Regions from separate parts of the Homo sapiens genome. Here all the other regions are linked to region 3. The links come from fine-mapping of genetic effects on gene expression. A gene starts in region 3. Each other region holds a variant in brackets. All regions are shown on one strand. Distances are from middle to middle.

Region 1 (4,354 bases), 95 kb before region 3:
ATCTCTCTGAAACAGCAGTTGCAAAAGCAGAGGGGGGAAAACAGGGACTAAGGGACACCCCATATGCAATTGAATCTAGCATTATTAACTTTAAATTTTTTGAGCCTGCCTAAAGGCCAGATATTATCAGCAGCTGAACAGCATCTACAGAAACCAGCTGCAAAGACAGAAGCAGAACAACTGGTTTGGTGGAGAGATCCAATAACAAAAAGTTGGGAAATATGTAAAATAATAACTTGGGGTAGAGGTTATGCTTGTGTTTCTCCAGGACTGAATCAATAGCCGATTTGGATACCATCAAGATATCTGAAACCTTATCAGGAGCCAGATGCCAAGGAAGAGATTTTGGGAGGATCCCAAGGACCCCTCAGTTGCAGCCATGTTGAGACTGATGCAGGAGGACCCCAACTGTCACAAGCAACACCTGTCAAACACAGCCACCTACTTGGGGACAGATCAAGAAGCTGTCACAGATGGCAGAAGAAAACCTGAGGAAAGCGGGACAACCAGTCACAATGAGTAATTTAATGGTAGCTATGATACTGGTGATCACCATTGCTATGAGTATTCCTTCAACAAGGACTGACACAGAGAACAATCATACTTATTGGGCACATTTGTCAATCTTGGCTGGCAATAATGCCTGGATGTAATCACTCTATGACACAGTTACACATGCTTTCTGATATCAGCATTTATCATAATGAATCTGCTCCTACAATTAAGGCAAACTGCCCTCAAAAACCTATTTGTAAACAGGATTGGACCTGGCCAGAAAAAATGAATGTACTTGTTAAGGAAGATTGCATTGCAGAACAGGCAGAGGTGCTGCGCAATGATTCCTATGGAATCATTATTGATTGGCCCCCTAAGGGGATGTTTAGCTTGAATTGCACCTCTCAGTCGGCATGCCACAGCCACACCGTGTTCAGCTGGTCTGAACAAAATGGTCAGATGGTAGAAATGGTAAGAAGTATGGCAAGAGTTCCTATTATCTGGAAACATGGCAGTACAGTGGCACCTCAACCTCAAATGATATGGCCAGTTGTAGGAGCTAAACATAAGGCTTTGTGGAAACTATTAATAGCTCTTAACAAGATCAAAATTTGGGAAAGAATAAAAAAGCATCTATAAGGACACTCTACAAACTTGTCTTTGGATATTGCAAAATTAAAAGAACAAATATTTAAAGCATCTCAGGCACACCTGACCTTAATGTCAGGAACTGGAGTGCTTGAAGGAGCTGCAGACAGATTAGCAGCTAGTAACCCATTGAAATGGATAAAAACACTGGGAAGCTCTGTGATTTCAATGATGATTGTGCTTTTAATCTGTGTTGTTTGTCTTTGTATAGTCTGCAGATGCAGATCCACACTCCTGTGACAAAGCTGCCTTTGTTTCACTTTGCAAAACAAAGAAGGGGGACATGCTGGGAGCAGGACCCCAAAACTGGAAACAAGCAAAATCTCTGCAGCACTGTGACAGGTTCATGGTGTCCATGACAACCACATTGAAGGTTGTGGGTTTATCGGAATTAAGACAAGGAACACCTGGCCCACCCAGGCCAGAAAACCACTTAAAGGTGTTCTTAAACCACAAACAATAGCATGAGCAATCTGTGCCTTAAGGACATGTTCCTGCTGCAGATAAATAGCCACACCCATCCCTTTATTTCCCATAAGGAATACTTTCAGTTAGTCTATAATCTATGGAAACAATGTTTATCACTGGCTTGCTGTCAATAAATATGTGGGTAAATCTCTGTTCAAGGCTCTCAGCTCTGAAGGCTGTGAGGCCCCTGATTTCCCACTCCACACACAATATTTCTGTGTGTGTGTCTTTAGCTTCTCTAGTGCCACTGGGTTAGGGTCTCCATGACTGAGCTGGTCTCAGCAAAATGGAGAAATGTTTCTACTAATTAACAATTTTTCTAGTAATAAAACTTCAAATAGCAAAACTTCCAAATCTCCTTAATTAAAACACTTTATAATTTTGAGTCT[C/T]TTATAGAGGCCAAAAATTTAAATGGAAACTTGTCAAAATAATTGCCATGTACTGCCAACTATTTGCAATAATCAAACAGAAAACATTTTTTGGCAATTTGCTGAAGCTATGAATTCTAGGTACAAAAGTTCCTCACAGAAAAACTAGGCATATCAGTTGGTGAATTTTGGTCCTACTAGGCTGGCAATGTTACACAGAAAAGCAGTATTAAGACTTGTTTTTGTTCAAACAGCTTCTTTAACATTGCACAGCTTTCATTCCATCTTAAATCAACAAGTTGAATGAGTAGACAAGGCAGTTCCAAATCCCTTGTATTCAGGTAGATTGAGATGAAGATTAAGGCAAGGGGCCCACTCTCTCACTGTCTACTTCTAATACTTCTGTTACCTTACTCTGTGCTATCATCACTGTCTGAACACACAACCAAGCCTATGGCCAACACATCAGATGCTTGTGGCTCCCAAATAATCAATAGCCTCCATCATGGCTGTCATATTGTCATTGACAATTGCCTAACACTTTTCTTCACTGACTTTCCATTATGTAAATATCTCCTCAGTTAGGTTTAATGTGATTTTAACTGTGTGAGACCCAGAAGGCTCTTGGCAGCCAAGTGAAATAGAAGCAGAGGTCAACAATAATCAACATTAATTCACCAAGTGGTCACACATGACATGTCCAAATGTCAAATACAAAATACAGAATTAGGACATTGTAAACAACATGGAGAAGATTATAATTCAGGAAGTTTTTTTTCTGTCAATCTAGCAGATCAAAAATCCAACAGTTGTTTGCAGAAAAAGCAGCTTGTATCCTGGAGTATGCTATAGAGTATACCAAACTGATGTGCCTTGAGAGGCCAAGTATCTTTTATATGTGACCTGTTGTAAAGCTCCATCTATCCTTCTATTCCAGGATAGATGCTGGAATTAGAGTGCATACAATAAAAATTGAGATACAAATGGAAATTTAAAGAGAAATTTTCTAACTTTCAAAGCCAATTGCATCTATCCATTGCCACATTTCTAGATCAGGATATAAGTACAAAACTTTTGATAAAGTTTTGATAAACCATCCAATGCCTATCTGCCCACCTATCCCCCAAAAAAAGAAAAAGAAAGAAGGGCAGTGATATTAAGTCTCTTTCTAAATATATTTAAGCCTCGTTTAAAGGAAGTGGTTTGCCTCAATGAAATTGCATTATCACCATCATTTAAGTTTTAATTGCAGAAACCAAAGATGAGTTAACTCTCTGCTTTAGGCAGTTACTATTAGAGAGGGAAAAAGACTTGGTAACTTAGTGTTAACATTACAATCAGTAATTATCCCACACTGGCAGAGCTAGCCAAAATGCTTCTACTACTACTACTACTACTACTACTACTACTACTACTACTACTAAAATCTTCCACTTGGCCAGGCACGGTGGCTCACACCTGTAATCCCAGCACTTTGGGAGGCCAAGGTGGGTGGATCATGAGGTCAGGAGATCAAGACCACCCTGGCTAACATGGTGTAACCCCGTCTCTATTAAAAATACAAAAAATTAGCCAGGTGTGGTGGCGGGTGCCTGTAGTCCCAGCTACTGGAGAGGCTGAGGCAGGAGAATGGTGTGAACCCAGGAGGCGGAGCTTGCAGTGAGCCGAGATCACACCACTGCCCTCCAGCCAGGGTGACAGAGTGAGACTCTGTCTCTACAACAACAAAAAAAAATCTTCCACTCTACTCACCTCAGTTAAAACCAGCAATGCCTTTAGTATTGCCAATGTGCAATATAGTGACCCTTGGAGCATTCCACAGCTGACAGTGCTGAGAAAATTGGGTTTCTGCTCAACAATGTCAAATTTCAAATATTTGACTACTAAAATTTTTCATAATAAAATTGAAAATTGAAATATTAACTGAAACTTTACACTTATTCTCATATCTCAGAAATTTAATCAAATGATGGTGCTATTTGGTGTTAGCCTTGGTTTTGGACAAACATTGATTTTAACATTCACCCATTTAGCATTTGGCCAAAACATGTATGTGCTGCATCTCCATTTTCCTTCTGTCTTCATGGACTTTAATTTCTCAATTCCTTTACTGTTCTTTTAGTGAGATTTTTGTTTGTTTGTTTTTGAGATGGAGTCTTGCTCTGTCACCCAGGCTGGAGTGCGGTGGCATGATCTCAGCTCACTGCAACCTCTGCCTCCTGGGTTTAAGCTATTCTCCTGCCTCAGCCTCCTGAGTAGCTGGGACTACGGGTGTGCACCACTATGTGTGGCTAATTTTTGTATTTTTAGTAGAGACGGGGTTACACCATGTTGGCCAGGCTGGTCTTGAACTCCTGACCTCACGTGATCCGCCC
Region 2 (4,354 bases), 100 kb before region 3:
CAATACCATTCAGGACATAGGCATGGACAAGGACTTCATGATTAAAACACCAAAAGCAATGGCAACAAAAGCCAAAACAGACAATTGGGATCTAATTAAACTAAAGAGCTTCTGCACAGCAAAAGAAACTACCATCAGAGTGAACAGGCAACCTACAGAATGGGAGAAAATTTTTGCAATCTACCTATCTGACAAAGGGCTAATATCCAGAATCTACAAAGAACTCAAACAAATTTACAAGAAAAAAACAAACAACTCCATCAAAAAGTGGGCAAAGGATATGGACAGACTTTTCTCAAAAGAAGACATTTATGCAGCCAACAGACACATGAAAAAATGCTCATCATCACTGGTCATCAGAGAAATGCAAATCAAAACCACAATGAGATATCATCGCATGCCTGCTAGAATGGCAATCATTAAAAAATCAGGAAACAACAGATGCTGGAGAGGATGTGGAGAAATAGGAACGCTTTTACACTGTTGGTGGGAGTGTAAATTAGTTCAACCATTGTGGAAGACAGTGTGGGGATTCCTCAAGGATCTAGAACTAGAAATACCATTTGACCCAGCGATCCAATTACTTGGTATATAACCAAAGGATTATAAATCATGCTGCTATAAAGACACATGCACACGTATGTTTATTGTGGCACTTTTCACAATAGCAAAGACTTGCAACCAACTCGAATGTCCATCAATGATAGACTGGATTAAGAAAATGTGGAACATATACACCATGGAATACTATGCAGCCATAAAAAAGGATGAGTTCATGTCCTTTGCAGGGACATGGATGAAGCTGGAAACCATCATTCTCAGCAAACTATCACAAAGACAGAAAAGCAAACACCGCATGTTCTCACTCATTGGTGGGAGCTGAAAGATGAGAACACTTGGACACAGGGCAGGAAACATCACACACCGGGGCCTGTCTGGAGGTAGGGGGCTGAGGGATAACATTAGAATAAATACCTAATGTAAATAACGAGTTGATGAGTGCAGCAAACCAACATGGCACATGTATACCTAAGTAGCAAACCTGCACGTTGTGCACATGTACCCTAGAACTTAAAATATAATTTAAAAAAAAAAAGAAAGAAGGAAAGAAAGAAAGAAAAAAAAATTTTGTCACCTCTAGACCTATGCAGGATCAATGATCAGGTGGCTAAGTTATCATCATATCAAATGAGGTTACCAATCTTAGTAATATTAACAAAATTAGTTATTAAGACTGATTGTTAATATCTAATATTCACTTTAAAACATGTAGATGTAACTTGAAGTAGAAGATTTCCTTACGTACTTTGTAGAGTGAAATTCTCTCAGTTATATATTGAAATTCTCTGAGTTCTCCCAATTTCTCAAAAGGAAAATGCTGCAACAATTCATAATTATGAAAAGTTAAATAAAAAGGAAAACAGATTAATGCTAATTAAAATATTAAGAGAAGATGCATTCACCGGAGAGTTTTATGAAATAAAATATATCCTTCTAAAACAACAAATATTTATGAGACCTTAAATAATAATGCAAGGTAGAATAATAGAAATTTACTTATAATTCTCATCTTTGTAGAATTGTTTGGTACGCAGACATTGGTAACATTAGGCAAAATAACTTGTAGGAATTATATTTAATTTTTAGTTATTTCACTCCATTTAGGCTGAGTCTTTTAAGAAAATGTTTTATTTTCAAATTGCTCACATCTTGTGAAAATGAGAAGGAAGCAGAATGTCAACTTTGTCACCTAAAATGTTTACAAGAAAATAAAAACAATGAATCCTGGACTACAGCATGCATAATAAAACATCTTTTATCCAATCATAATAAAAAGTAAAAAACTTGAAGAAAACGTGTTGGGAACAGGCCCCCAAGTCTGGCCATAAACTGGCCCCCAAACTGGCCACAAACAAAATCTCTGCAGCACTGTGACATGTTCATGTTGGCCATGACACCCACGCTGAAGGTTGTGTTTACCAGAATGAGGGCAAGGAACACCTGGCCCACCTAGGCTGGAAAACCACTTAAAGGTATTCCTAAACCACAAACAATAGCATGAGGGATCTGTGCCTTAAGGACATGTTCCTGCTGCAGATAACTAGCCAGACCCATCCCTTTATTTCAGCCCATCCCTTTATTTCCCATAAGGAATACTTTTAGTTAATCTATA[A/G]TCTATAGAAACAATGTTTATCACTGGCTTGCTGTCATTAAATACGTGGGTAAATCTCTGTTCAAGGCTCTCAGCTCTGAAGGCTGTGAGACCTGATTTCCCACTCCACACACGATATTTCTGTGTGTGTGTCTTTAATTCCTCTAGTGCCTCTGGGTTAAGGTCTCCACAACTGAGCTGGTCTTGGTAAGCAGCGCCCAACATGGAGGCTCGAACCCAGGTTGAAGGGTCACCAGAGTGATGGCTGGAAAACCTGGAACTAAGCTGGAGGACACCGGAGTACTCTTAAGCAATGCCCGTGTTGAGTAAAAAGGGTAGCTCAGAAGCATCAGGGTAACAATGAGACAAGTGTGGGCTCTGGTTCATTCCACCTTGGAACCTTTTCACACTAATGATGAGGAGGAAGGAAAGTATAACAAAGTAACAGACCAGGTTTGTTTGCCAGCTAAAGCTAAAGCAGCAAAGGAGGAAGAGGTTCATCCCTACCCTTCTGCACCCCCTCCTTATTTTGAAGAAAAAGAGTGGCCTGACCCTCCAGATCTTTCTTTTCTGGAGGACCCTGGGAGAAAAGTAGTTGCCCCAGTGACTGTTCAAGCAGCTCCTTGAGTGACCGCTGTCAGTTCTATTCTGGCAGGAATTCAGCAAGCTAGACGAGAGGGTGATATAGAAGCTTGGCAGTTTTCTGTTAGAATACACCCCCCCCCCCCCAGATCAACATTTGAGCCTTTTCCTTTTAAATTCAGGAAACACCATGAGGGGCCCATCCTGGGCCCCATTCCAAACCAGGGCATTTCTGGCTCAGGCCATTCCTTCACCCCTGTACAATGTCTGTCCCCCACCACAGCTGGTAGTGCCACAGTAGATTTATGCTGCACAAAAGCTGTGAGCCTTCTGCCTGGGGAACCCCTGCAAAATGTCCCAACAGGAGTCTGTGAACCCTTGCCAGTGGGGATGATAGGATTGCTTCTAGGAAGGTCTAGTTTAAATGTAAAAGGAGTACAAATACATACAGGAGTAATTGATTCAGATTACAATGGTGAAATTCAAATTGTTGTATCTACATCTGTTCCCTGGAAAGCAGAGCAGGAGAGTGTACAGCACAGCTCCTGATTGTGCCATATGTGGAAATGGGGAAAAGTGAAATTAAACAGACAAGAGGATTTTGAAGCCCAAATAAACAAGGCAAAGTGGCTTATTGGGTGAATCAAATTACTGATAAACGTCCTACCTGTGAAATAACTATTCAGGGAAAGAAATTTAAAGGTTTGGTAGATACAGGAGTGGACATTTCAATCATTTCCCTACAGCACTGACTGTCCATGTGGCCAATTCAACTCACTCAATTTAACATAGTTGGAGTTGGTAATGCCCCTGAAGTATATCAAAGTAGTTATATTTTGCATTGTGAAGGGCCCGATGGACAACCTGGAACTATTCAACCAATTATAACTTCTGTACCTATAAATGTATGGGGAAGAGATTTATTACAACAATGGGGAGCACAAGTTCTAATTCCAGAACAATTATATACCCCACAAAGTCAACATATGATGCATGAAATGGGGTATGTCCCTGGTATGGGACTAGGAAAAAATTTGCAAGGTTTGAAGGAACCGCTTCAAGCAGAAAGACAAAGTTCCCACAAAGGTTTAGGATATTGACAGGTGACAACATGCGGCCGGCCCTCGCTCCCTCTCAGTGCCTCCTTGGCCTTGGCGTCCATTCTGGCCATGCTTAAGGAGGCCTTCAGCCCGCCACTGCACTGTGGGAGCCCCTCTCTGGGCTGGCTGAGGCTGGAGCCAGCTCCCTCTGCTTGCAGGGAGGTGTGGAGGGAGAGGCGTGGGTGGGAACCGGGGCTGTGCGTGGCGCTTTTGGGCCAGCGTGAGGTCCAGGTGGGCGTGGGCTCAGTGGGCCCTGCACTCAGAGCAACCAGCCAGCGCTGCCGGCCCTGGGCAGTGAGGGGCTTAGCACCTGGGCTTAGCAGCTGCAGAGGGTGTGCCAGGTCCCTCAGCACTGCCAGCCCACCCGCGCCATGTTCGAATTCTTGCCAGGCCTCAGCCACCTCCCCACAGGGCAGGGCTCAGGACTTGCAGCCTGCCATGCCTGAGCCCCCCTGTGGTGGGCTCCCAAGTGTCCCAAGCCTCCCTGATGGGCACCGCCCCCTGCTCCACAGTGCCCGGT
Region 3 (4,000 bases):
CATCAGGACCAATAAATATTAGCTCTTATTATTATTATTACACTATGCCAAAGCACTTCAAGTTTTCTCAACCTCACAACAACCCCACAAGTTCAGCATAAGTCTCATATTCCATTAGGTTGAACAACTAACCCAGGGTCACACAGCCAGTGGTGGAGTTCAGAACTATCTAATTCCAAGCTTAGATTCTTCTTTTCCACCCTGTGGCCTGAATTACTGGCCAGACTTTCAGTCTGGAGGCAGCCTCTCTGTCTACCCTTCAGGCTTTCACATCTAAATCCCAAGGGTCTTGCTCTTTCCCTGAGTCTGTCCATCAGAACTGGCATGAGGCCTAAAAATGAGCCGTTTCAAGCCCAGGCATCATCTACTCACTTACATAACAAAACCTTAGTCATCCCACTGAGATTCCACACTCAAAGCCAATTTCTCTCACAGGGCATCGAATGCTAGTTAAAGATATAAAATCACGCTTATCACAATTAACTCCCTTGCCTTTATGATGCAGCCAAGTCAAAGCCCAAACAGGAATAAATTTTTTCTAGTAGCCACAAATCAGAGGAGTGAGAAAGCTCTATGCCAAATCTACCATTTTCTGATTTCAAAATCCATGCTAAAAACTGCAGTTAAACATCAGCTACCAAAACACCCTTCTATCAAATAAGAATCATGGTGATTGCATGAATTGAGCACTTTCTATGTACTTGCTCTTTACGTGTTATTTCTATGCCTCAGAAGAGCCAAGCAGGCCAGATAGATGTTACTGCTTGAGAGGCTAAGCAAGTCCCATAAGGTCACACACACAGTGAGGAGCAGAACCTGGACTCAAACCCAGGCCTATCTGATGACAGCAACAGTGCTGCTAACCATGCCCTTCCCCCCAGCTCTCTACAGTCAATGTGATTCATGGCACCCAGGACCAACACCGGCTCTTGGCTTTCCCACAAACCACTTCCCTGAAATCTGGACAACTTCTTGGGAGGAGGAGTCATGGGAACAGGACAGATGAACTCCAAAATAGAAGATCGGGTGAGAGGTCCGGCTCTGCTACTTCTGTAGCTCTGTCACCACGGGCAGATCACTTAACTTTCCAAGGCCTCAGTTTCCTCGCCTATGCAATGGAGATGACCGTGAATGCCCCAAATTGCGCTGATCTAGTAGAGAAGAGGAGCTAAGGCTCAGGGGCTTTCCAGACGTGAGTTATCTTTACCTTTCCTTGACTAGCTAATTCAAGACAACTAGGTAGAAGCCCTTTCTCAGCCTCCCCTCTTCGCTCATCTTTCGAGTTCTTGGCCACCCCAGTTCAAACACCAGCACCATTGCCCTCCTCTCAGGTGGCTGCTGCTTAATTTCCCCTCCACTTTAGTAGTTCTTCTCTTGCCTCGCTAGAAGGACTGGTGTTGGGTGCTTGGAATTCTGGCTATTTTCCTCCTGCCGTTCCGACTCGGCACCAGAGTCTGTCTCTACTGAGAACGCAGCGCGTCAGGGCCGAGCTCTTCACTGGCCTGCTCCGCGCTCTTCAATGCCAGCGCCAGGCGCTCACCCTGCAGAGCGTCCCGCCTCTCAAAGAGGGGTGTGACCCGCGAGTTTAGATAGGAGGTTCCTGCCGTGGGGAACACCCCGCCGCCCTCGGAGCTTTTTCTGTGGCGCAGCTTCTCCGCCCGAGCCGCGCGCGGAGCTGCCGGGGGCTCCTTAGCACCCGGGCGCCGGGGCCCTCGCCCTTCCGCAGCCTTCACTCCAGCCCTCTGCTCCCGCACGCCATGAAGTCGCCGTTCTACCGCTGCCAGAACACCACCTCTGTGGAAAAAGGCAACTCGGCGGTGATGGGCGGGGTGCTCTTCAGCACCGGCCTCCTGGGCAACCTGCTGGCCCTGGGGCTGCTGGCGCGCTCGGGGCTGGGGTGGTGCTCGCGGCGTCCACTGCGCCCGCTGCCCTCGGTCTTCTACATGCTGGTGTGTGGCCTGACGGTCACCGACTTGCTGGGCAAGTGCCTCCTAAGCCCGGTGGTGCTGGCTGCCTACGCTCAGAACCGGAGTCTGCGGGTGCTTGCGCCCGCATTGGACAACTCGTTGTGCCAAGCCTTCGCCTTCTTCATGTCCTTCTTTGGGCTCTCCTCGACACTGCAACTCCTGGCCATGGCACTGGAGTGCTGGCTCTCCCTAGGGCACCCTTTCTTCTACCGACGGCACATCACCCTGCGCCTGGGCGCACTGGTGGCCCCGGTGGTGAGCGCCTTCTCCCTGGCTTTCTGCGCGCTACCTTTCATGGGCTTCGGGAAGTTCGTGCAGTACTGCCCCGGCACCTGGTGCTTTATCCAGATGGTCCACGAGGAGGGCTCGCTGTCGGTGCTGGGGTACTCTGTGCTCTACTCCAGCCTCATGGCGCTGCTGGTCCTCGCCACCGTGCTGTGCAACCTCGGCGCCATGCGCAACCTCTATGCGATGCACCGGCGGCTGCAGCGGCACCCGCGCTCCTGCACCAGGGACTGTGCCGAGCCGCGCGCGGACGGGAGGGAAGCGTCCCCTCAGCCCCTGGAGGAGCTGGATCACCTCCTGCTGCTGGCGCTGATGACCGTGCTCTTCACTATGTGTTCTCTGCCCGTAATTGTGAGTCCCCGGGCCCCGAGGCAGCAGGGCACTGAGACTGTCCGGCCGCGGATGCGGGGCGGGAAGGGTGGAGCGGATCGGGATGGACGCGGCGCCAGGCGAGCTGCGCCCTGGGCCAGGAAGGTTTGCTGCTGAGTTCCCCAAATTGGATTCCTTCCACAGCCCCGAGATATAACTCAGTTTGCGGAGCGAAATGAGGGAAAGTTAGAGAAAGGAAGGGAAAGGCTGAGCCCGGCGGTGTCTCCCTAGCCCAGCAAAACCCTCTCCATGTGGCAGAACTCCCTCCTCTCTGCTTCCTTCTGGGGAGATCTCGAGGTCATTTTTGCGCCTTAGGAGGAGCAGAACTTAGTTTCTCCTTGGCAACAGGAGTCTTCTACTTCCCGACGGCTGGGTGATGTTTTATTTTGTTAGACCTGCTCATGACTTCAGTGGTATCAGAAATGGGCGAATGGCGTCTGGGACGATCTTCTCCCCGGTGTTGGCATAGAAAGGGAAAAAGAGGTTTAAGCCAGCCAGAGTGATTTGCAGATGCATAGTTTTAATTTTGAAAAACGCGTGCGTAAACTTTGAGACGCCACGGCTGCTGTTTCTGGTGCTGCATCCGCCAGGGATTGTGGCGATGGAGGCCGAGGCTCTTTGTATGTTTTAGCTGCTGGTGTCGTTTTGACAACCTGACTTGACGGGTTTTGAGTGTATCTTGGCAAGTGAGGTGACATGAAAGCCATTATCTCCGGTTTCAATTTGGTAATGAGGATAGCGATGGAAATGAAATTATCTCCTCATTTTGAAGGCATTTGTTCCTGGAGTCCCCGCCAAGACACCTGGGAGTAGGTGAGGCTTGAGGAAACATTTTCAGTGCTGCTCCTCTCCTTTCTCCCAAGGTACCTGTTCAACAAAAACAATACTTACAGAAATTCCATTGCCAATCCCACGTTCTCGAAATCCTGAGACTTCTGTGAATAGGAAAGTTGTTAAATTTCTTCTCAGAATGTAGCCATTTTGGATATTACTTTCAATGGTGAATGAAAGGGAAATACAAAGCGATTTTCCTTTAAATGAAGGCCTTACTGCTTGCGGAAAAAGAAGTCTGGGGCATCAGCATGCAGGGGTGGGAACAGTATGCCCCCAAAATAAATAAACAAATACATAAATCTATATCTATCTAAATGTAGATATAGGCGCAGATGACATATAGCAGTGGTCTTCAGAATCACCAGCTCAGAATCACCAGCAAGGCTTCTAGAAAAAAAGATGGCTGGACCCCATTCCCCAGAGTTTCTAATTCAGACATTTTTAAAGAATTTTCATTCTTAACAAGTTCCCAGGTGATATGCAAGCTCAGATTCAGGGTTCACATTTGTAGAATCACACTCTAAAACAGGAGTTAGCAAACCACA

Evidence for each region. PIP is the estimated chance that this variant, and not a neighbour inherited with it, causes the effect.
Region 1: its variant is the best candidate, but not a certain one, in a credible set for the expression of PTGDR in whole blood (INTERVAL, PIP 0.75).
Region 2: its variant is the best candidate, but not a certain one, in a credible set for the expression of PTGDR in whole blood (INTERVAL, PIP 0.71).

The regions. Positions count from the first base shown.
Region 1 is chr14:52,170,683-52,175,036 of GRCh38, forward strand. No RefSeq gene overlaps it. Among named protein-coding and RNA genes, the nearest start is that of LINC02319, 47 kb to the left of the region's middle. The variant C/T (reference allele first, on the strand shown) is at 2,001.
Region 2 is chr14:52,162,742-52,167,095 of GRCh38, forward strand. No RefSeq gene overlaps it. Among named protein-coding and RNA genes, the nearest start is that of LINC02319, 39 kb to the left of the region's middle. The variant A/G (reference allele first, on the strand shown) is at 2,174.
Region 3 is chr14:52,266,058-52,270,057 of GRCh38, forward strand. PTGDR (prostaglandin D2 receptor) reads left to right here and starts at 1,641. Exons shown (of 2, transcript NM_000953.3): 1 at 1,641-2,603. The coding sequence starts at 1,758.